Linked DNA regions of Homo sapiens. The protein of the gene in region 7 purifies or fractionates together with the protein of the main gene of each other region. This does not show direct contact. Each region holds a gene or a part of one and is shown on either strand. Other genes may lie near its edges.

The links.
Region 1: the proteins of TCEANC2 (region 7) and SLC4A1AP purify together in Homo sapiens (affinity purification with mass spectrometry; 2 studies listed by BioGRID and IntAct, with this or other methods). This does not show direct contact.
Region 2: the proteins of TCEANC2 (region 7) and ARK2N purify together in Homo sapiens (affinity purification with mass spectrometry; 2 studies listed by BioGRID and IntAct, with this or other methods). This does not show direct contact.
Region 3: the proteins of TCEANC2 (region 7) and PPM1G purify together in Homo sapiens (affinity purification with mass spectrometry; one large-scale study listed by BioGRID and IntAct). This does not show direct contact.
Region 4: the proteins of TCEANC2 (region 7) and WDR70 purify together in Homo sapiens (affinity purification with mass spectrometry; 2 studies listed by BioGRID and IntAct, with this or other methods). This does not show direct contact.
Region 5: the proteins of TCEANC2 (region 7) and ANKRD17 purify together in Homo sapiens (affinity purification with mass spectrometry; 2 studies listed by BioGRID and IntAct, with this or other methods). This does not show direct contact.
Region 6: the proteins of TCEANC2 (region 7) and UBE2R2 purify together in Homo sapiens (affinity purification with mass spectrometry; 2 studies listed by BioGRID and IntAct, with this or other methods). This does not show direct contact.

Annotation. Positions count from the first base shown.
Region 1 is NC_000002.12:27,670,389-27,673,888, reverse strand, and holds part of SLC4A1AP (kanadaptin), read right to left. Parts: intron 1-3,500.
Region 2 is NC_000018.10:46,240,034-46,243,533, reverse strand, and holds part of ARK2N (protein ARK2N), read right to left. Parts: coding exon 3,347-3,500; intron 1-3,346. UniProt on the Homo sapiens protein: AMPK substrate important for exercise capacity and skeletal muscle function.
Region 3 is NC_000002.12:27,385,592-27,389,091, forward strand, and holds part of PPM1G (protein phosphatase 1G), read right to left. Parts: intron 1,568-3,500; coding exon 1,498-1,567; intron 689-1,497; coding exon 603-688; intron 289-602; coding exon 156-288; intron 1-155.
Region 4 is NC_000005.10:37,700,818-37,704,317, reverse strand, and holds part of WDR70 (WD repeat-containing protein 70), read right to left. Parts: intron 3,261-3,500; coding exon 3,176-3,260; intron 1,370-3,175; coding exon 1,231-1,369; intron 1-1,230.
Region 5 is NC_000004.12:73,252,299-73,255,798, reverse strand, and holds part of ANKRD17 (ankyrin repeat domain-containing protein 17), read left to right. Parts: intron 1-3,500.
Region 6 is NC_000009.12:33,911,160-33,914,659, forward strand, and holds part of UBE2R2 (ubiquitin-conjugating enzyme E2 R2), read left to right. Parts: intron 1-804; coding exon 805-939; intron 940-3,500. UniProt on the Homo sapiens protein: E2 ubiquitin-conjugating enzyme that accepts ubiquitin from an E1 ubiquitin-activating protein, and catalyzes its covalent attachment to other proteins by an E3 ubiquitin-protein ligase complex.
Region 7 is NC_000001.11:54,088,108-54,091,607, forward strand, and holds part of TCEANC2 (transcription elongation factor A N-terminal and central domain-containing protein 2), read left to right. Parts: intron 1-489; coding exon 490-683; intron 684-3,500.

The DNA.
Region 1 (3,500 bases), on a different chromosome or scaffold from region 7:
CCTTCATCCTGAGCTATTCTTCCCAGCTTCTGCAGCCAATGACCTTTCCCCTAAGCTAGTTTGAATTGGACTTCTATTATTTGCAAGGAAAATAGTCCTTATTAATATAAGCCTAATTTGCAGGTTAAGATGGTACATTAAACACACATATCTAATTTCCCTCTTTCCCTAAATCCCAATAAACCATAGTAAAGAGATGTACCCACGCCTGGGCAACATAGCAAGACCTTGCCTTTACTAAAAATAAATCTAAAAAAAGTAGCTGGGCATGGTGGTGTGCACCTGTAGTCCCAGCTACTTAGGAGGCTGAGGCGGGAGGATCGCTTGAGCCCCGGAAGTTGATGCTGCAGTGAGCTGTGATCAGACCACTGCACTCCAATCTGGGCAGCATAGAGGAAAGAGAAGGAAGGAAGGGAGGAAGGAAAGAAGGAAGGAAGGAAGGAAGGGAGGGAGGGAGGGAGGGAGGGAGGGAGGGAGGGAGGGAGGGAAAGTAAGGGAAAGGAAAGGAAAAAAGAGAAGGGAGGGAAAGGAGGAAAAGAAAAAGAAAGAAAGAAAGAAAAGAAAGAGAGAGAGAGAGAGAGAGAGAAAGAAATTCATAAAGACCCAAATTTTAGAAAATTAGAAAGTAGACAGATGAGTAGAAACTAACTTAGCAGAATTTAAAAAGATAAATCCTAAACAGTGGGGAAAGCTGAGAGCCAAAGTGATTACACTGCAGAATCCTCAAACGGATCTGCAACTGGGGATGGATACTAAGGTTATGGAGGACTAAGTAAAAACTGGTTGAGAAATAGATCTTCCTCCCTGCCTACTCATCTCCTTTCCATCTGCAGTAGAAATCCAGAGGTTAATCTCTGGAAAGGGTAAAACAGAAAGCCTTTGGATTACGAGTTGACTAGTAAAGTTGAAGGCATGGGCACTATAATCTAAAAATAGTACTGTCCTGAAAACAGCTGAATGAGAAGCCACTCAGCCACCTTCTACCACTTAGCTCTAGGAATGCTGGCAGCCAGTCCTTTCGTTTCAGGCAGGAGATTGGAAGAGCACTCTCTGGGGAATCTCGCTCACAGACGAGGAAAACCAAAAGGATACTTAAATCAAGGGTTCCCCAACAAAAGGCCCACCCACATCATTCAATAGTACTGCTCAAAGTCAACAAACCCCACCTATATATTCCATGCAGAAACCCCACCTATATATTCCAAACTGTCAATCACCTTTTTCATCCCCAAATAAAAAAACTACAATGAAGAATTACATGACACCTAAGAAAAGCCTTTAACATGCAGAACAGAGACCACATAAAAAGAAAAATAACATGGAGAAAACAGAGAGGAGATATTTACAACCCATGAAACAAGAGGATATTATGTTTTAAAAAGGACAATTCAAAAACCAAAAATGAACTTTTAGAAATTAAAACCTTGGAGTCTCTGAGCCTTCTCTGGCATGAAAGACTGCCTGATTTTAAAAACTTTAAAAAAAGAGAAAGAAATTAAAACCTTGATGGCAAAATAGAGAAGACAGAAAGATAAAGGTGCAGAAATCTCTCAAGAAGGAAAAGACATACAGATGAAAAAAAGAAGAAAAAAAACTTAAATGGTCTGTCCAAGAGGTCCAATGTCTGAATAATAAAATTCCATAGAAAACAGAGGGACGAAACAATTAATGACATAATTGCAGAAAACTTCCTGAACAGCCAAGGTTTCTAGATCAAAAGGATCCAACAAGTACCCAGAAAAATGAAGAAAAATAGACCCACAGAAAAGTACTTCATAGTTTTAGAACCTTTAGAACAAAGGGAAACTCTTACAAGCTCTGGCAAGGCGGAAAAAAAAGATGACATACAATAGGATCAAAATCTGAACAGTTTAGGATTTCTCAAAAGCAACACTGAATGTAAAATAAGAAAAATTGTTTCCAACTTAGAATTGTATTCCCAGCCAAACTATTAATCAGGAGTGAAGCTACAATAATTATATTTTCAGAAGAGAAGGATTAATAAAATTTATTTCCTATACACTCTTTCTCTGAAATCTACTAGAGGATGTCCACCAAAACAAGAGAGTAGACCAAGAAAAGGAAAGATGTGAAATTCATTGAAGACTATCATCACCCATGCCCTCTAGTGTTGTACCAGCTTTTTAATCTGCTAAAAGTACAGAAGGATGTACTACTGTGCAAGGAAATAAACCAAGAAATATGAGAATATGAGAATCAAGAAACAGAAAAGTCAACCCTGGAGAAAGGACAAAGAAATCTTAAGGATGATAGGAAAGTTAAGTCCCAGGTGACAGTTCTGTAGCAGATCTGCAGAGCAATAAGCCCTGAAAGAAAAATAGTGCTCTTCAGAAAAAGTGTCTCCAAAACAAATCAGAACTGATAAATTACTTAATCATTAAGTTGTTTGATGTGGTGAGGCTACTGAAAGGTGTGGGAGGAATGAGCAAGAAATACAAAAAAGCCCCAAACACATGAAAAGCAAACGCAATTATTACCCTTAGGAAAAACAAAAAGAAATAAAACTGCTCAGTTATAACTAATATTTGCATAAGCATAATCACGTAAATACTAAATACTAATTTAGCAGAGTCGACAGGTAACGTCTAAAATAAGTGACTAAAAATATAACACCATACTCTTGTTCTTAGAAATACAGGTGTTTTTAGGCTGGGCGCAGTGGCTCACGCCTGTAATCCCAGCACTTTGGGAGGCCAAGGCAGGCGGATCATGAGGTCAGGAGTTCGACACCAGCCTGGCCAATATGGTAAAACCCTGTCTCTACTAAAAATACAAAAATTAGCTGGGTGTGGAGCACGCACCTATAGTCCCAGCTACTCAGGAGGCTGAGGCAGAAGAATCACTTGAACCCGAGAAGCAGAGGTTGCAGTGAGCCAAGATCATGCCACTGCACTCCAGTCTGGGTGACAGAGTGAGACTCCATCTCAAAAAAAAAAAAAAAAAAAGAAAAGAAAAGAAATACAGGTGTTTGTTGTTTTTTTTTAAATTTAATTAATTATTTATTTTTGAGACGGAGTCTTGCTCTGTCACCCAGGCTGCAGTGCAGTGGCGCGATCTCGGCTCAATGAAAACTCTGCCTCCTGGGTTCACGCCATTCTCCTGCCTCAGCCTCCCAAGTGGCCGGGACTACAGGCACCTGCCACCACACCCAACTGATTTTTTTTTTTGTATTTTTGGTAGAGACGGGGTTTCACCGTGTTAGCCAGGATGGTCTCGATCTCCTGACCTCGTGATCCGCCTGCCTTGGCCTCCCAAAGTGCTGGGATTACAGGCGTGAGCAACCGCGCCCGGCCAAGAAATACAGGTGTTTTTAAATGCCAGAATAAATAACTGAAAAAACTGAAAGCCTTTAGGGAAGAAGACTGAGGATGGGTAGGGCAAGGAACAAGTATATTTTATTATAAGCCTTTTGGTAGTTTTGAACCAGACATAAGTTACTTTGCAATAATAAAAATATAATATAAGCCTTATTAATAAAT
Region 2 (3,500 bases), on a different chromosome or scaffold from region 7:
ATATATATTTTGGATGCAAGATAATCATCTAATTGCTTGGAAAAAGGCAACCTACTCTATCTTTAGTGCGTACCTATGTGATCCTAAATGGGATGGGGCTGTGGACCTGGGTTGAGATGCTGCTGTTGATTAAAGTGAACCCCTGAATAGTCTGCTCAATAACTAGGCTTGCTATTTTGTTGTGAAAGGGAAAGACAGGACCCAGATTAACCATTAAAATTTTAACTTACACTCACACCATAAGAATGACCATCTGACTAATAGTCCAAGCCTCAAAACTATTAACTGGCTCCTAAGCATAAATTCTATTAATATTTTATTGAGACACTGTAAGCACATTCAGATATCTTCACAAGATGAGTTCCACTATGATAATCACATCAAGACTACAGTATTATTTTTATTTATTACCCACATACCAGTATTGTCAGATTTAAGAAAAAAAAATGCCTTTGAAAGAGCCAATAAGCTTCATAACAAAATGTCATGGGGATCTGCTGAGCAGTGGTGACTGCATCCTATGATATACAGAAACCTACACAAAATTTATAGTCCAATATGCACAAATGCTCTCTCTATATATTAATTATATCCTAGAGAAATTATCATATACATATACCAAAAAACACATAAAGAAATGTTAAGAGCAGTATCACTTAAAATAGCACCCTAAATGTCCAACAAGAGAATGGGTAAATTGTGATATATTCATATAGTGGAATACTAAATAGCAGTGGAAAATGAATGAACTAGAGCCACACATAACAACAACAAAACTCATAAAATGTTTAACTAAAAAAGCACATTTCAAATGATTACCTTCAATGTGATACCAATTAGTTTTAAAAACATGCTTATTTAGATATATAACAAATGTAGTACAAATATATAAAGAAATACACAGGAATACCACACATTAAATATCCAATTTAGGATAGCTTTGGCATGGGAAGGGCAAAGGGAAGGAAAACATCTGAAGCCACAGTTGTTTTCCTCCTCACATACTTTTACCACGTTTTATTTCTTAAAAAGAATGGTTGTAGTTTCTTAAGAGTGATTTTTAAATAGGCTAACAATTACTTGAATCTGAAAATGTGAATGCCATCCCAAAAGCTAAACTTTAATGATATTTTAAAACCGCAAACTTTGCATTATTCGGTCAAGTCATAAGAAATGGCTGATTTTTTGTAGGTCAAAAAGTCAAATATTAACAATTCCATACGGTTCAATCTAATATTAAGAATTCTGCATATGAAGAGCAAAACGTTGGTAATCATTCATTTTTTACCCCAAAACTTTACCATAAAATGGTCTATATTTAACGGCAAGACTCAGAAAACAGAGAAATAAAACTGAAGTGGAATGGATGACTTAATTGCCAAAGGATGAAAAACAAAGATAAACCATCTAATATACAAATTACAAGGCTGGGTGCAGTGGTTCACGCCTGTAATCCCAGCACTTTGGGAGGCCAAGGCAGGCGGATCATCTGAGGTCAGGAGTTCCAGAGCAGCCTGGCTAACATGGTAAAACCCCATTTCTACAAAAAATTAGCCAGGCGTGGTGGTGCGCGCCTGTAATCCCAGCTACTCAGGAGCCTGAGGCAGGAGAATCGCTTGAACCCAGGAGGCGGAGGTTGCAGTGAGCTGAGATCGCGCCATTGCACTCTGGCTTGGGCAACAAGAGCGAAACTCCATCTCAAATAAATAAATAAATAAATAAATAACTTAGAAACACATATTGTACAAAATGTGGCCAAACTACTTTCCACTGATATAAAGCATTATTACTTCTTTTTTCTTTTTTGGGGGGATACAGTCTAGTTTTGTCACCCAGGCTGGAGTGCAGTGGCACAATCTTAGCTCACTGCAACCTCTGCCTCCCAGGTTCAAGCAATTCCACAGCTGAGATTACAGGCGCCCACCACCACGCCCACCACCACACCCATCACGCCCAGCTAATTTTTGTATTGTTAATAGAGACGGGGTTTCACCATGCTGATCAGGCTGGTCTTGAACTCCTGACCTCAAGTGATCCTCCCACGTCGGCCTCCCAAAGTGCTGGGCTTACAGACGTGAGCCACTGTGCCCAGAAGCATTATTACTTCTTTTCAAAGTATTTGTATTAATACATATTAATAAATCCTTAAAAGACACTTGTTGGGCAAAACAAGGATTTATACATATAAAAACTGAAGTCCAGAGGAGAAACAACTGGTCCAAGGACAAACAGGCAGCAGTTACCAGTCAAAAAAAATCAAAACTAAATTCAGGTTCAGTTCCAAAATTAGCTACAGTAAATCAATCAGGTCAACAAACAAGTGATTTTTCTGTAATTCCAATCAAAGATTATGAAAGGAATAATTTAAGACAACAACAATCAATGGAGTTCTGTCTCAATATAAAAAGTTCTAAACTATAACTCATTTTTTTGTAAAACTCATTTTTCATAAAAATAACTTTAGGTAGTGATTAAACTATTAGATTAACTCATAAAACCAATGCATTTATAAATTAACTAGAAAACTATAATCTTTCAGCAACACTGAAGAAATTATACACTGCATAAGCAGTCTCTCAATCCCCTTCTCTTCTTAAATGTTCAGTGCTAGTATTTTCACAACAACAACAAAACAAGGTTTAAATTAGAATGCTGAAAGAAACTTTTGAAGAAAATATTGAAGAAGACTTGGAGGTATTGTGAAAGTTTTTCAAAGGTAACAGCAGTGGATTTTTTAGTGAATAAATACCACCTTAAAGAATAATCACAAAACTAAAAAAATGTAAGACAGGGACAGAGATTTTTTTTCCTGAGCTAACAGAGACAGAAACTAAAAGAAAGGAGTTAGAAAAGACAAATGAGAACTTACTGACGAGGAATTAACAGGGTCACTCCACAGCAAGAAGCACAAGAAACAGCGGCAGCGCTGTGTATGAACAGCCAGCCCCACAGGGAGAGATTCAACGATTCCCTATCCAAGCTGCAAGGTCACTACCCAGAATTAAAGTGAGAGAAAGAACTGGCCAAAGAATATGAGCATATCTGGGTCATTTTTGCAAATATTGGGCATTTTTAATCCAAGAAATATGCCTACTGAAACCTACCAATACCTACAATTAATGTCTTAAATGCTCTTATTTCTACTTCCTTCTGAGTAGGAAAGATGAATGACAAGCTATCCAAATTGTTTCAGGTATAAATGGCAGCCTGGATAGTCACAACCAATCATTCAATGCCAGATGTCTCTGGTATGACCTGTTCTCCTCATCAGGGTCCACTACAAGGAAAACAGCTCCAGGACACATGCATATTACACCGTTAGAGAAGGGGGATGGGGAAGACCAACCTGCCTCTGCATTCAGCTCCTCTAGAAGCCCGCTGGTCCTCCAGGTAGCTCCTGTGTCCTGGCCGCCTACAGAATTACTGTGCTCTTGAACTACTGCAGCCGCCAATAAATTGTCCACATTTACCACTTCTGGGTCAGAGTTGGTGTCAGACAT
Region 3 (3,500 bases), on a different chromosome or scaffold from region 7:
TAACCACATACAATGCAGGAGAACATCATAGGTTTCTTTAACATAAGGACTCCCCAGGTCCCTAGAAAGCCATCCTATCTTAGAATTGATAAGTAATATTAAAGAATATTTCTTAAAATGCTGATTTCCCCTCAAACAAGGGATGCCACACTCACCATCATCTTCATCAGCTACTTTTTCTTTTTCATCTTCATCCTCAGTGGGTCGCCCTGCAATCTGTGCCAGCTCTTTAATGACTTCTTCAGTGGTCAATTTGGCGTCAATAGCCAAGAAGGCATCTTCTAAAGCCTGAATATAAGCAAAATAGTCTAAGACTAGTACAAAATGAACTCCCTATATACAATCCTGAGCACAAGGATGGAATACAAATTAAGAGTGTGAGCCACCACACTAAGAGACACTCACAGATAAAAACAGCTCAGAGGCCTAGGAATAATAAGGCAAGTCTAAAAGGCGGCCAATAAGCTCGTTTTAGGAACAGAATTCTTCAAGAGTAAATAAGCAGCAGCAGCTAGAGGACAAAAAGAAAGGAAAAGCCCAAGGGCTAGAGAACAAGGGAAAAGCCTACACAAGTGAGGAATGGGCGGTGTAAGCAGACAGACCTTCTGTAGCTTGCCTTCCTTGTAGGCCTTCTGATCTTTGATGATATCAGGAAGATATTTGGCACAGTACAAGGCAACTTCCTCCCCTAGAAGGAAAGGAAGGAAGGTCACCTGGAGCACTGCTCCCCACACATAGAAAGTGATACAATATTTATATGCCATACTGGAGTGAACCCCAAGGGTTGAGGGGATAAATATCTTAGCACCCCTGAACCCTATTTGAAGGACACTGTTTGGGGAAGTTCTGATCCAAAAAAATGGATTTCACCATCAATTCTCTCGGGTATAAATATCTCGTCTTTTCTCACCTGTATACTTAGTTCTCCAGTGAAAAAAAGATAAAGAATCAGCTCAACTGGGTACACTTTTTTGTTTTTTAAGACAAGAGTCTTGCTCTGTTGCCCAGGCTGGAGTGCAGTGGCATGGTCTTGGCTCACTGCAACCTCCACCTCCCAGGTTCAAGCGATTCTCCTGCCTCAGCCTTCCGAGCAGCTGGGACCACAGGCGCCCACCACTACGCCCAGCTAATTTTTGTATTTTTAGTAGAGATGGGGTTTCACCATATTGGTCAGGCTGGTCTCGAACTCCTGACCTCGTGATCCACTGTGCCGGGATTACAGGTGTGACCTACCGCGTGCCCAGCCTAAAAATTTTAAAAAATAAAAATAAAAAAAGATAGAGGCTCTTTGGATTAAAACAAGTCCTGGTGAGATTATAAACCAATACAGTACCTACTGGGAAAAAAGAATGACAGAATACAGAAAAACAGCACCACGCAGGAAATGATAATGAGGGCCAGACCCTGGAAAGTAAATGAACAAAGGGACCTGTTCTTGCCCTGGAACGTCTGGAATTGGGGTCCTAGAATGTTACCAATATGATCTGTTAAAGTTACCTCCATGTCCATCGTAGACAGAAAACATGGCTGTCTCACTGTCCAGCTCAGGAATACAGTTGTGAGCATCCTAGGAAAAGAAGAGCATAATCGGCATGTCTCAAGGTCGAAGAATATTCCTCAGGTCATAGGGATCAATGTCACCCCTTACTAACCTTTCCCTGGCTGGCCTATATGGCCTAGAAATAAGAAAGGAAGAAGGAATGATAAAATAAATACAGAGGAAGAAAAGAGGAGGGAGGCAAAGGAGGAAAGGGGAAGGAGAAAAGGAAGAAAGAATCAGGTTACTACCTCTATAATAACCTCAACCTAGGAGATATCTCAGTCCAGATGGCAGAATATTTGGCTACTGGAAATAAACCTGACCCTTTTGGATCTGTGGAAGCTACGGGAAAACCAGAATAAAGGATTTTTTCTTCTTTTTTTTTTTGAGACAGAGTCTCGCCCTGTCACCCAAGCTGGAGTGCAGTGGCGCGATCTTGGCTCACTGCAACCTCCGCCTCGTGGGTTCAAGCGATTCTCCTGCCTCCGCCTGCTGAATAGCTGAGATTACAGGCATGTGCCACCATGCCCGGCTAACTTTTGTATTTTTAGTAGAGATGGGGTTTCACCATGTTGGTCAGGCTGGTCTCGAACTCCTGACCTTGTGATCTGCCTGCCTCGGCCTCCCAAAGTGTTGGCCAGGCTGTACACAGCTTTATTTATTTATTTATTTATTATTATTTTTTGAGACGGAGTCTCGCTCTGTCGCCCAGCCTGGAGGGCAGTGGTGCGATCTCTGCTCACTGCAAGCTTCGCCTCCCAGGTTCACGCCATTCTCCTGCCTCAGCCTCCCAAGTAGCTGGGACTACAGGCACCCACCACCACACCCGGCTAATTTTTTGTATTTTTAGTAGAGACGGGGTTTCACCTTGTTAGCCAGAATGGTCTCGATCTCCTGATCTCGGGATCCACCCGCCTCAGTCTCCCAAAGTGCTGGGATTACATAAGTGAGCCACCGCGCCCGGCCTACAGCATTATTTATAATAAAAAACAGTTGAGGCCAGGCGTGGTGGCTCACACCTGTAATCCCAGCACTTTGGGAGGCTAAGGCCGGCAGATCATGAAGTCAAGAGATCAATACCATCCTGGCCAACATGGTGAAACCCCGTCTCTACTAAAAATACAAAAATTAGCCAGGCGTGGTGGTGTGCGCCCGTAGTCCCAGCTACTCGGAAGGGTGAGGCAGGAGAATCACTTGAACCCCGGAGGTGGAAGTTGCAGTGAGCCAAGATCACACCACTGCGCTCCAGCCTGGGTGACAGAGTCAGACTCCGTCTCTAAATAAATAAATAAATAAAATAAAAAACAGTTGTAACCATCTAAATTTCCAGGAATAGATTACAAATGGTACGTAACTCCAGTGGAAATGTAGCTGTTAAAAGCAAATATATGTTAATTTGGAAATGAGTTCACAATATCTTAAGTGGTTAAAAGCAAAAAGTTAAAAAAGTATCTACATGTGAGGACGGCCACAGTGGCTCACTCCTGTAATCCCAGCACTTTGGGAGGCCCAGGCAGGCGGATCATGAGGTCAGGAGATCGAGACCATCCTGGCTAACATGGTGAAACCCCGTCTCTACTAAAAATACAAAAAATTAGCTGGAGGTGATGGTGGGCGCCTGTAGTCCCAGCTACTTGGGAGGCTGAGGCAGGAGAATGGCGTGAACCCAGGAGGCAGAGCCTGCAGTGAGCCGAGATTGCGCCACTGCACTCCAGCCAGGGCGACAGAGCAAGACTCCGTCTCAAAAAAAAAAAAAAAAAATTATCTACATGTATATGTGAGTCTGGAAGATCACATAGCAAACAACCACAGAGGGTGAGATTTGGGTAATAATTTCTACTTTTCGACATTCATTTTTAAATTTTTGTACAATAAACCACATTGTTCCATTCTGAATAAGGACAACAAACACACCTAAGAACTGGCCTCAAGTTGCCATTCTACCATATACTGCATGATC
Region 4 (3,500 bases), on a different chromosome or scaffold from region 7:
CAGCTTATTTCTGGAACAACCAATTACAATAATTTTACTTTCTGAGATGAAAGTTGATAGATTCAATTGTTTTCTTTGATTCTAGTGTTTTAGTTGGCTCCTAATGCACCCAGAAAAAGCACTGTGAGTGCTGGCACATTTCAAATTACGTCATGAGATTAGAATCTATTAAACATAAGTACTCATCTAGAATTAATCTCATTTTTATTTCACTTTTCCTATAATACTCTATACCGTGGTTTTACATTCAGAACCCGCAAATTAAGACTTCATAGTAATACTAGAACATTAGAGACAGGAGTTTTTTGCTGGTAATTTAAAAACAGTTGTTCAATTGTCTGAGTCACGTAAGTGCATAATATGTCTCAACTGTTTACAAAGAGCTGAAACAACTGGAAAAACCTACATAAGAGCACTGTTTAAGATATAGGATATTACTAAAAGATTTGACAATGAGCCAAAGAAAATTTACACAGACATTAATTGGCCTGTTTCATACTCAGAAAATTACAATGATTTGCTTTACCATGTAAATAATAATATACAGCTTAAAGGAATTCAAATTTTCCTCTGGGAATTTTCATTCTTATTGTATTACATGTGGCTCCAGTCTCAGTCTCAGGACATGAACAAATGAATGAATGCATCAGTGAATGCTGGTGTTTTAGTGTTCATATAAATCTGTAAAGAAAACTAATGTGTTTTTTTAAGGTGTTGAAGTTAAATCTGAAATGCTTTAAACTTCCAAATAATTAAATAGCAATTAAGTTCAGCGCAAGCTGAGCCTGACTTTAATGACTACAACCCACACAAGCAGAGTTCTGTCAAAGTTTTCATGGTTTCGGGAACAATGTTAAACTTCGTCACTTATTAATCTTTCACTTCTGTCGACAATCCCTAGATCCTCACAAACATGCCCATTGTGGGATGCTCCTTTCTGTATCCTACATGATGATCATCTTCCTCACTCCTCAATTTGTTTGGCAGAGAGGGAAACCCAGCTGAAATTCCTACTAAAGTGTAGGTCCATAGGAAATATTGGGTTGTGGAAAGGGATAGGGTAGCTCAGCCATCCACAACATACTGATAACTCCTACGCTAGAGTGAAAAGCAGCTATCACCGTGCTCTAAGGGCCAGGGCTTATATTCTACTTAACAAACAAAACCAAAAGATGGGTAAGAGGCAAACTTTATGTATTCTCAAGGCTGAGGAGAAAAGAATATACGTACCGCATCTGTGATGTCTATTTCATACACCCTTTGGAAAGTCCTACGCTCAAAGAAAACAAGTTTGCCGCTGCCACATCCTCTTTGAATAGATGTACCAGTGACTATGAGCTTATCATCTGGACTGAAACAGCAGTCAGTCCTACAGAAAAAAAGAGTTTACGAGTATAAGCTTATGACCTCCACAACAGTCCAGCAATCATTAGTGAATTAAATAAAATATAAACATCTCTGTAACTCCTATATAGGGCTTATGAGTCAAGCACTTATATTAATTTGTTTAATCGTCACAATAATCCTATGTGGTAGTTATTATCCACATTTTACTGATGAGGGAACTGAAGAAAATAATTTAATTACACCTTGCACACGGCAACAAAAGTAAGTAGCACAGCTGGGATTCAAACTTAGGCAGTCAGACTCCAGAATCTGTGCTTTTTAACTTCTACATTGTAATTTTTTTAATGTAAAGGAAGTATAAAAAGACTCAATATAGACATTAAGAGTGTCTACGGACAGATATATATTTGACTAATGTCTAAGTAATGATTATTTTGGCCATTTTAAAAACTATTTTCACTAACACCACTACCATCACCCCCAAATAATTTGAGTTATATCAAGTTGAGCACCATGAAATGAGCCACAGGTTGCATTGCTGGAACCTAATTGATGGCTATGATTCCAAGGCTTTTGTTGTTAGCAGTCTGGCCATCTGATTGTGACTAATCTAAGACATGACCCAAAGAAGTTATATAGTTAGCATTACTTGCAGCAGGTATAATAGCTCAAAAAATTACCATCAGAAGTTATATAGTTAGCATTACTTGTAGCAGGTATAATAGCTCAAAAAATTATCATCAGCTATAAACTCATGTTTGTTCGTTTTAACATAAAATGCCATGGGCAGCAGACATGTTAGAGTTAGTACTGCATTATCATACAGCTTTCATACAGCTTCCTTCCCTTGACACTTCCATTATCTTCATGCTCTTCTCTGTTGACCATTATTTCATTTCTACCAAAATAGAACAATTTGCCTAAGCACCAACTATAGGACTTAGAGGTCAAGTTTTGCCTCAGCTGCTTCAAAAAAACCTTTAAAAGTTTCAGGTGCCAATTTAGTAGATTGGAGATAACAGCGTTCAGCTACCCACAGCAAGACAGTCTGAACAAGTGAAGGATGCTGAATTATTGATTTGAATGATTTAAAAAATGAGAAAATAAGCTGTACTATAAATGCTCAGTAATATTAAAAACTGCCTTGAAGGTATTAGAGCTCAATTTTTTTTTTTTTTTTTTTTTGAGATGGAGTCTGGCTCTGTCCCCCAGGCTGGAGTGCAGTGGCGCAATCTTGGCTCACTGTAAGCTCCGCCTCCCAGGTTCACACCATTCTCCTGCCTCAGCCTCCCGAGTAGCTGGGACTACAGGCACCCGCCACCACGGCTAATTTTTTGTATTTTTAGTAGAGACGGGGTTTCACCGTTGTTAGCCAGGATGGTCTTAATCTCCTGACCTCGTGATCTGCCCGCCTCGGCCTCCCAAAGTGCTGGGATTACAGGCATGAGCCACCATGCCTGGCTGACTAGAGCTCAAATTTTTAAAAACCACAAATTTTAAAAGGCCTACCTTGTCATTTATACAATATTAAAAGAACAACTGAATCTCTTAAAATATATTTTAATACTCCAAGACTTGTGCGTGCATACAATACACACAAACACATGAATAAATCAAATACATAATTTTAACTTCAAAAAAGTTCTTGAAGTCTGAGGAATGTGAAAAATAAAAAAAATACATATTTTTCAAAAAACAGATTTTGATCACTCTCTCAAGTCTCTTTTCCAGAAGATCTAAAAGACGTATGATATAAATTAACATTAAAGTAAAAGTACTTCTTTTCCATTCTTCTATGCTGATCAAATATTTAAAATATGCTACTTACATTGGGAACATGGTGGGAAGACCCGAGGCTGAAAAAAGTGGTTTATTAAATTGTCGGATGTCCCATAATTTTAATGAATCGTCACCTGACAGAGGAATGAGGGGAAAAAAAAGACAGAAAAGTGAATTGTGCAAAAAGAACTCGCTCCCAGTTTAGAGTCTGCTAAACTTAATGTATAACTGTAAAGAAGAAAGGGAAGGGGAAGGGGAGAAAGAGAGAAGAAAGAAAGGAAGAAAGAAGCTAGATTCACACAAGCATGTTTTACTTTTTTAACCGTTCAGAGAGCTTAAAAAGCGGTAGTCGCAAGAGCAGTTGAAAGCTATTT
Region 5 (3,500 bases), on a different chromosome or scaffold from region 7:
TGAGCTGAGATTGCACCATTGCAGTCCAGCCTGGGCAACAAGAACGAGACTCTGTCTCAAAAAAAAAAAAGTGTACCCATTTAAAAAATCTATACAGATGAGGGATGAGCAGACAAAAAGGAGTACAGATTGTCTCTGCCCCATCTTCATCTTTTGATCAAAGTAAAGACAAATAAAACTGTAAGCTAAATGGGTGAGTTGTGTAATGTTTTTCTCTTAATTACCATTTTACTGACATGTCAGCAGAAGCCTAACTTTCTGGAGCTAGGAAGTCTTGTGGCTAAAATCACAGTGTTGTCTTTTCTCTAATTCATTCTGTTATAGGCTACACAATAAAAAAAAGTAGATAAAATGATCTTTAAAATTATCCTTCCAGTAAAAATCATCAAAAGATTAAAAAGGAATGTGAAAGGTTATGGTTTTGTGGTATTTAACCTGAAAGGATAACTTTAATTTAACAAAAATACATAGCTTTGCTATAAAGAAATGCTATCTGAATAATCTCTGTATCTGCCAAAAGAGGAAAAATGGAAGGAAACGAGAATCAATTCAAATAAGAGCTTCATTTAATTGTTGAACAATAAGAATATAATTTCTAGACATTGGAGTAGGTTATTGAGAATAGGATTTTACTTTAAAGTATTTCAGAATAGGGTAATCACGTCTTAGATAATTTGCATAACTTCGGGTATACCTGGAAACAAATAAGACCAAGAGCTACTTGCCTCCCTCTCCCCATCTATTTGACACAAAATCTTACATTTAAAATTGAAAATGCATAATTTTCTTGGTTTTCAGTGAGTGACTGACCAATATGGAAAATACAAATATATTTTCTAACATAAAAGCCATGATGCTCTTTCAAATTAGTGGACAAAATTAATTAAATTGCTTTTGACTATTACAAGAAAAAAATCTTATAATTTCAAGAGTTGATACTTTATTTTAGAAATAACATTGCATTCTATTGAATGCATTTTTGAATATGACTGAATGATCTTAGTATTTTTTCTTTCTTTTTTTTTTTTTGGAGACGGAGTTTCGCTCTTGTTGCCCAGGCTGGAGTGCAACAGTCTGATCTCGGCTCACTGCAACTTCCACCTCCCGGGTTCAAATGATTTTCCTGCCTCAGCTTCCCGAGTAGCTGGAATTACAGGCATCCGCCACCAGGCCTGGCTAATTTTTGTATTTTTATTAGAGACAGGGTTTCACCATGTTGGCCAGGGTAGTCTTGAACTCCTGACCTCAGGTGATCCACTGGCCTCAGCCTCCCAGAGTGCTGAGATTACAGGTCTGAGCCACACTGCGCACTGCAATCTTAGTATTTTCTAAGGCAGAATTCAAAGGGGGAGAAACATTTTTGTTGAAGATGCTTAAAGTATAAATACAGTAGGAGTTGATCAGAATTTCATCTGTTTTTGTAAGTAACCTGTGACTAAATCAAGAGATAAACCTAGTGAAGAAATTTTAGACAAAGGGAGCCGGTAAATAAATTAGTACTGACTTAGTATTGAAAGGATTTGCAAGGCCAGGGAGGATCTGTTTACAGACAGAAAAAGAGAGTTGAAAATGAGGGAGAAAGAAAAAATATTTCAGAATTAGGCTGTGTTCAGCTTCATTTGGAAATATTCTTGTTTGTTTTTTATTGGAAAAGTGCTATCTAAATTCCTTTTTTGTAATGCTTAGAATCCTAGATTAGCCCAGAGAAGCTTGCTTGTTTCATCTCTTAATTGATGTAGCAGTATTTGTAAACTAGATTTTAAGATCTTTGAAGCAGTAGTCTGTCTTAATTATAATTTATCTTGTCTTCTCTCCTGCTTAAGCACAGTACTAGAAAAAAACAAAACATTTTTAGTGAATAACTAGTACTTAGGGAGGATTCAGCATTCATTTAGGGAAAGAAGAGAAGGAATGGAAATTCTTCCCTTCTTGGATCCAGGGCTTCTGAATAGCTGAAGTTCAGATTTCAACATTTTCCAATTTCTTAATTCCTTTTCGTAGTGATGATGATCTTCTCTAAGTATTAAGGGGAGAGCCAGTTAAACTAATAGGAATTGATGAATGCCTGGTAAGTACCTTAAGCCTCCTAAAATTTTTAAAGAGTAAATAAAAATGAATACTTATTCAGTACCTACTGTTTGTGAAGTCTAGGTAAAGGTTAAAAGTATGGATTTTGGAGCTTGGATTTAAATCCTTGATCCATCATTTACTAGCATTGTGACCTTGGCCGAGTTTTTAAATCTCTACTGCAATTTCCTCATGTAAATGGTATAAATGGTAATGATAGTAGATTCTACCTTATAACATTGTTATGAGAGTTAAATGAGTTAATACAATTTTCTCGTATTCTCATTTTATTCTTGCCATAACCCTATGAAGTAGGTGCTGCTATATTTCTTTCATTATTCAATAAATGTTTGGAGTTCCTACTATGTGCTAGGTATTGTGCTGTACTGCGTGAGCAATGGTGAACAAAACTTGTAAGTCACCTTGATTTAAAAATACACCAATGAATAAATATTATAAGTTTGGGGAGGTGTGAGAGTGAGCTTAAGTGGTTAAATGTACATCTTGAATAATGTGTGAGTTTCAAAGTATACAAATGTTGGCAGGGAGCATTCATTTTACAGGTAAACATACTGGCATAGAAGGATTTTAGGCAACCTCATCAGGGTCACATAGCTAATAAATGTCAGAATGGGATTGAACCTGGGACTGTTAGATTCTACGCCTCCTCATTCATTCATTTATTCTCTCACTCATTCACATGCTCTGTTATGCTGTATGGTGTTGAGTACCATATTTCAGATATTGGCACATTCGGCTTGTATAAGGGGAGACGCTTTTTTGCAGTTGGACGGCCATTGAAGACAAGTTGGTCACCCCAAGTTTTCTTTCCAGTTCTTCTGAAAAACTCACTAAAGAAAAAGAAAGCAAGAAATACAGAAAAGTATAGAAAAATAATCCATATTCCCACCACCTAGAATTAAGTTGTTAACAAGATGAAAACTTCATACTGAAAAACCACCCTTTCTAGAGGCGATTTACCACTTATTCCTTGCCTTTCAAAATATTTACTTTTCAAGGTAATCTCTCCTTATTAATTTGAAAAAAAAAATGTTTCTTTTAAATAGAGATTGTTAACTTGGGGTCTGGCTAGGCTGTGAATCCTCTGATATTAAACAAAAGATTTTGTTGAAGGTGCTTATAAGGCTTTATTTTTCTTCCTTTCTGCTCTAGCCCCATATGTGCAGGATTTTCATTAGATCCTCAAAGAGTTCTGTGACCCCCACCCTCTCCCTCCTACCTTGTTACTTTGAAACATTCTCACTACAGATTTAGTGGGGAATTTGGTCATTTATTTGGATTATTAAGAGTTTGGAAACTGCTTCTAACTAAGCAGATGATGTGGTAACAAAGAAGGCTTATTTGTGAAATAGTGGGTCCAAGATTGATCACATCTTTCTGGTAAACCAGCCTTATGCCTACTCTCTTTTCTC
Region 6 (3,500 bases), on a different chromosome or scaffold from region 7:
GCACTTTGGGAGGTTGAGGAGGGCGGATCACCTGAGGTCAGGAGTTCAAGACCAGTCTGACCAACATGGAGAAACCCCATCTCTACTAAAAATACAAAATTAGCAGGGCATGGTGGCAGGCGCCTGTAATCCCAGCTACTCGGGAGGCTGAGGCAGGCAGGAGAATCGCTTGAACCTGGGATGTGGAGGTTGCGATCACACCATTGCACTCCAGCCTGGGGAACAAGAGTGAAACTCCATCTCAAAAAAAAAAAAAAAAAAAAAAAAAAAAAAAAACCTGGTTATATAGAATAGCATCATTTTTACCAGCTCCCACATCAAGATTGCCTTGAAACTAAATATTTTAAGCTTTTTCCCCCATGCCATTTAATTTGTAATTTTTAAAATAAACAGTATTTGAAAGCTTCTAAGACATCTGCTTTCTGTAGGTTGGAACATGTGACCAGTTGAAACAGGGCCTTCTATCAAGTTCATTTTTATGCTTTGTGCATTACCCTTATACTAGAATCACTTGTGCATTACCCTTATACTAGAATCACAGATTTCCTCTGCTTTGCCTGCCAGTTAGCAGCTTGTTTCTTAGTGCTGAAAAAAATTTTTTTTTATTTTTCTTAAATGCCTTTTATGAAAACTATCAATAAAAAATTTATATCTCTATTCCCCCAAGGTCTTAAATTTAATTGTATCAGAAAAATTTTAAGGGAGGGAGAATTTGAAATCTGATTGTACTATCTTAAAAAGCAGAATACTTTTAAATACTGTAAATATGGGTATTCATAGCTGATCCTTTTTTCCTGTTTCTAGGACTATCCTATTAAGTGTAATCTCACTGCTTAATGAGCCCAACACCTTCTCCCCAGCCAATGTCGATGCTTCAGTTATGTTCAGGAAATGGAGAGACAGTAAAGGAAAAGACAAAGAATATGCTGAAATTATTAGGTAAGGTTTTTTTTTTTATTACCTCAAGTTATACAAAACCAAAATATATTCTGGAACCAAGGGTTTAAATCAAACTTAAATATCCTGTCCATTCCAGGATAATTTTCCTCTATTAGATTTATAGTGTGGGAAGAGAAGATTTCTGCCTGAGCCTAAAGAACTTTGCTGTTTACCGAGAGAACAGCCACTAGAAGATAAGGCAGTAGCAGACCTGATTTTCTAGGAACCAGAACTTCTAGGTTCTGGCCAGGCATGGTGGCTCATGCCTGTAATCCCAGCACTTTGGGAGGCTGAGGCAGGCGGATCACCTGAGGTCAGGAGTTCGAGACCGGCTGGCCAACATGGTGAAACCCTGTCTCTACTAAAAATACAAAAATTAGCCAGGTGTGGTGGTGCACACCTGTCATCCCAGCTACTCAGGAGGCTGAGGCAGGAGAATTGCTTGAACCCGGGAGTTGAATGTTGCAGTGAGCTGAGATCACACCACTGCACTCCAGCCTGGGCGACAGTGCGAGACTCCATCTCAAAAAAAAAAAAAAATTGAATAAATAAAGCCTTCCAGTTTATTGGCATTCCTGACCATAGCAGCAAGGATTGTTTGGAAATCCTCATTATCAGCAACACTAATGTATGGTATAACAGAGCCCTAGAATAAGATTCAGGGGACTTGGAATCTACTCATGGGACCATTTATCAGATAATTTTTGGGGTCTTTTACTTTCTCCTCTGTATAAAATGGAAAAAAGCTTAACCTTTAATCTCTTAGGACATCAGGTTCTTATAATAGTACCCAAGAAATTTGCAATAAATACAAACCCTACACTTCCCCTACCCTCCACCTCTTTTTTATTTGTTTCTAATTAATTTTTTTTTTCTTTTTGAGATGGAGTCTTACTCTGTCATCCAGGCCGGAGTGCAGTGGTGTGATCTCGGCTCACTGCAGCCTCTATCTCCTGGGTTCAAGCAATTCTCCTGCCTCAGCCTCCCGAGTAGCTGGGATTATAGGCGCCTACCACCATGCCCAGCTAATTTTTGGATTTTTAGTAGTGACAGGGTTTCACCATGTTGGCCAAGCTAGTCTCGAACTCCTGACCTCATGATCCACCCGCCTTGGCCTCCCAAAGTGCTGGAATTACAGGCGTGAGCCACTGCACTCAGCCTCCTCCACCTCTTTTTAAAGAAACAGACATGGTCTTACTCTGTTGCCTGGGCTGGAGTGCAATGGTGTGATTACATGGTAACTTCAAATTCCCGGGCTCAGGCAGTCCTCCCACCTGGGCCTCCTGAGTAACTAAGACTATAGGCATGCACCACCACACCCAGCTAATTTCTATTATTATTTTTGTAGAGATGAGGTCTTGCTGTGTTGCCCAGCCTGGTCTTGAACTCTTGGCCTCAAGTGATCCTCCTGCCTCAGCCTCCCAAAGCTCTGGGATTATAGGTGTGAGCCACCGTGCCTGGCCTCCACCCCCCTTGATATTACATTTTTATTTCTTAAAATAGAGACCCCAAATACAGTTACAGCTTCCTCTGTGCATAGGAGTTGACTAAGCATTGGCATTTATACAAATAAGAATAAAATCTAGTTGGCTTGAGACCATGTGATATGAAAAAAGTTAAAACAATGCTGGGAAAGGACATGAGGTGACTGCTGAGTAATATAAAATCAGCAGTTCTAAGTTTTCTGCCCATTGGGATCACTTTTAAACTGTCCCTAAACAATAGCTGTCTTTTATGGGATTACAAGGACAGAGTTTGGGCATCTGTGTGTGTATATATATCTCACCTAGGTGACTGATGTGTACCAAACATTGAAGATAATTAGTAGAAATATTAAGATCCTACAGAAATTTAGAGGAGTGGGAGTGTACTAAGGATTGAAAGATCAGAAAGCTTAGGTATACATATTCCCAAGGTACTTCTATATATTTCTTAATTTGTTTAAGGGTCCGTTTATCTCATTCTATCTATTCCTTAATGACCTAGTACAGTACCTGACACTAAGCAACAGCTTTGTGTTAGGTACTCATTAAGGCATAGCCTGTCTCCTTAGGGAGCTCACTTTATTAGCATTTGAAAACAAATGACCATGTAGTATTATACCTATAGAAGCCTAAACAAGATACACTGGGAGAAATATATAATGTAATAGATTTCCTAGCAGAGATAATTCCTTATAACCAATACTTTTTCAGGTGAAAAAAGGGAAAATACCCATGTTTGCTAAAATACAGGAGTATAACAGCATGACATGTTAAGGGGATTACAAATGCTTGAGTGTAAATTCTGATGTGGGAAATATTAGAAAATTAAGCAAGAGAGGCACCAGGGTCTTCAAAGACATTGAAGTCATGATAAGAGTATGGTTCTTAATGTAAGAAGTGATGGGGTACCACTTAAATATTTTTGGGAGGGAAGAGGTGATGCTATTTGAGTTCTGATAAAAGAATTGGCTGCCTGGTGTGGTAGCTCACACCTGTAATCCCAACATTTTGAGGCGGGTGGATCACCTGAGGTCAAGAGTTCGAGACCAACCTGGCCAACATGGTGAAATCCCATCT
Region 7 (3,500 bases):
TCATTGAATGAGTTCATCCACTGATGATTGTCTCTGAATGAATTATTTCATCAGGGCTACAAAAAAATGTTCTCATTCTGTCAGTCTTTTCACATTTATTAGCTAAATAATATTCCCATAATAACTAGGGCTATTTTGTTGTCTTGAAATACAGTATGTACCCCCTTCCCCCAAAAAACTAGATAAATGCTTAATTCATTTTTTTTAAAGTAATTTTTGGTTAAAGAAGTTACCTTTGTTGTTCTTTTTAAGAATCTATTGATTTTGCTTCTAGTTTATGACTTAATTCATTGGCTAGGCTGCTGGTTCTCCCCCAGTGATTATCTTATTATCTTAGTCCTTGTGAAATGGGTTTCTTTTGCACAAGAGTCTTTACATCCTTGGGTGTGTGAATGACTTTCTCAGTGCCACACGTCAGTCCATCTAGTCCTGCGCTTCTCAGAAGAAGATGTAACAACCTTTCCTTTGGTTTTTCTCTTCCTGTTCCAGGTCACACTGTGAACAAGATGCGTAAACACTCAGATTCAGAAGTGGCTTCTCTTGCCAGAGAAGTTTACACTGAGTGGAAAACTTTCACTGAAAAACATTCAAATAGACCTTCTATTGAAGTTAGAAGTGATCCCAAAACCGAGTCGTTGAGGAAAAATGCTCAGAAATTACTCTCAGAAGCCTTGGAATTAAAGGTAATGCCCTAAATATATACAACTGTTATGTACCCATAATAATTAATTTTTAAAAGAAGAAAAATAAAGGTAATGTCCTGGTCGGATGTGATTAGTAGGTGCTCTTGGTTAAACGCCTCATAATTTCATAATTAAGATTTCATAATCTTAATGCTGTGGCTTTATTTTAACCAGTTATTCTTTAAGGATTCTGGATTTATAAGCATTCCGGGAGACAGTGTTGTAGGAGGCAGGCTTTTGAACTAGCAAGATCTGGGTTGAAACCCTGACATTCTAGTTGTGACACCTTAGGCAGATAGCTTAACGTTTTCTGAGACTTGATTTCTTAATCTGTAAAATGTGGATTGTAAGTCCTACCACTTAAGGTATTAAAAAGGTTAAATGAATCATATATGCAAAAGAATAGTAGTGCCTGCTGATTAGAAGTTATTTAATGGATGTTGGTTACTTCCCATTTAAAATTCCTTCCCTTCTTGCTGAAGTAAAAATTCTGTGATGGACTGTGTTATGGAATATCAATGGTAAAATAAATAGCTGTCTATTGAAAAGACTCAGATCCCCCATTTTTTGTCAACAGCCATATCTTTAGCTTTAAGGCATAAAATCAATTGGATAGACTTGTTCCCTAACACCTTCATGGCTTACAATTCAGATGATGTTAGTGGTTTGAAGTATACATGCTGGAAGAAGGATTTTTGCTCATTAATAATAATATTCATTGTCATCAAACAACAAATCTTATAAGCCGATTAATACTCTGGAAAATAGGACATATAATATTCATGTTTCTTCCTTATCCCAGGATATCCCAGAGCAACTCTGCTAAAGTATCCTTAAAGAACAATTTAATATTAATAAAATAAGCAATTCAGAAGTCTGATTTAAATGCTAGCTCTGTTACTACAGTCTCTAAAAAAAATTTTAGCCTTTCTATCTCAATTTTTTATCTACAAAAGAAGGACTTGTGATATAGTACTTACTTTTTTTAAAATAAAGTTTTGGACCTGAAGTGAATTTGCACCAAAGCAGCAGCTGCATTGCCACAGTTCTGTCTTCACCTTCACCATGTTCCTCTTGGTCAAAAACGCACCAAGTCGTCTCCAAGTTTGAAGCATTCAGCAAACAATGGCAAGGCAGAGCCACCGGAAACGTACACCTGATTTTCATGATAAATATGGTAGTGCTGTATTAGCTAGTGGAACCACTTTCTGTATTGCTATATGGACATAGGTAGCAACACAAATCAGAATAGAATGGAACCTGTCCCCTGTTGGCAGGGTCACCCCAAAGGAATGGAGAGATCAGTAATCATTCCAGCTGGTGTAATAATGAATTGTTTAAAAAACAGCTCGTAGTTGATGCCAAGTTAAAGCACTGTGTACCCATTAAGATATGGCATTATTGAAGAAATAAAGTACATTTGAAACCTTAAAAAACTAAATAAAGTTTTGGGTTTTTAAATACAAACTTCTAATAGAAAATGAGAAAAATGTATAAAAGGGAAAAAAATGTAACCCAGACATAATCTTGTTAACACATTGGCACATTTCCTTTTTTGGTAAATTATTATGGGTTTTTAAATGAATGTTGGGCAAGTTATGATTATCTGAGATTTATATAGAGTGAATTATATGCCAAATGTTCCATAAGATATTTTTATTGATTATTTAAGTAACATTGCAGAATATTGATGTAATTATTTACATTTGTGTTCTCTTGAATCTTGATCAATTTTAGTTAGTGTCATTTTTTATATCCTTTTCTATATATCTTTATTTTTTCATGTTTATAATTTTTAATGACTATTTGATAGTTCAGTGAATTGCTATGCTGGAGGTTCACTTAACTTTTCCTAAAGGAAGCTTTAATATGAGTATTAAACCCTTGGAAGAGAGAACAAAGTATGAAAGTTGTAAGTCTGATTTTCCAGAGTATCGATTAGCCAACAAGATTTATTTTAAATAAAGTTTAGTTTTGAAATAAGTCAAAATTACTGCAGAAACATACAGTGTGGATATATAATACGTAGTTAATGTGGTGGTAAATACCAATTTCCTGTGGTATCTTTTTAAGTAAATGATAATAACAAAGCTATGCTTGTAAGGATTAATGAGCAGTTTGCCTACTGTATTAAACTCCACGATAATTATCCTTTTAGTTTATCCATTAATTATCCTTTAAATGGCACATCAAGTGGTAAGCACTCAAGTGTTATAAAGCAAAGTTAAAAAAGTGATATGTTTGTTAGTGTTTTCCAACATAATTGGAAAAAATATCAGATTAAGCATAGCTGAATGGTTTTGTTCCCAAAGAGTAAATTTAAAAAATTAAAAGTATGCATCTCACTGTCGTCCTTAGCCAAAAAAAAAAAAAATCACTCTGCTTTCCTTGCATAAACAGCATTTGATAGCATGTTTATCAGTTTGTTATGTCAGAGAATATAAATACAAGCACTTTTATATAAGGTTAATTCTTAGCACCTATCATCATCTGAGATATTTCCATATTAGAGCAAATCAATGAACCATCTAATTCAGTATCTGGTCTTTGACAGTAACCAATGTTGAGTGCGTTCAAATCAGACATCAGATCTTCGTAAATGTACTTAATCAGGCAGCAGTAAAGCATTGGGTTTAAGTTATTGGCCCAGTGACTTAAAAGCCTCTACAATTTGATCCTAGCATGTGTTATTGCAAATACCAAATCTTCTCATTACATTTTTGTAGAAAAAAAATGTTTCCATGTTGTTTCACTCATATCCTTTAATAGTGAAAGCCATAGATGAAGAATAATAACGCACAGCCTAAAGGTGCATCT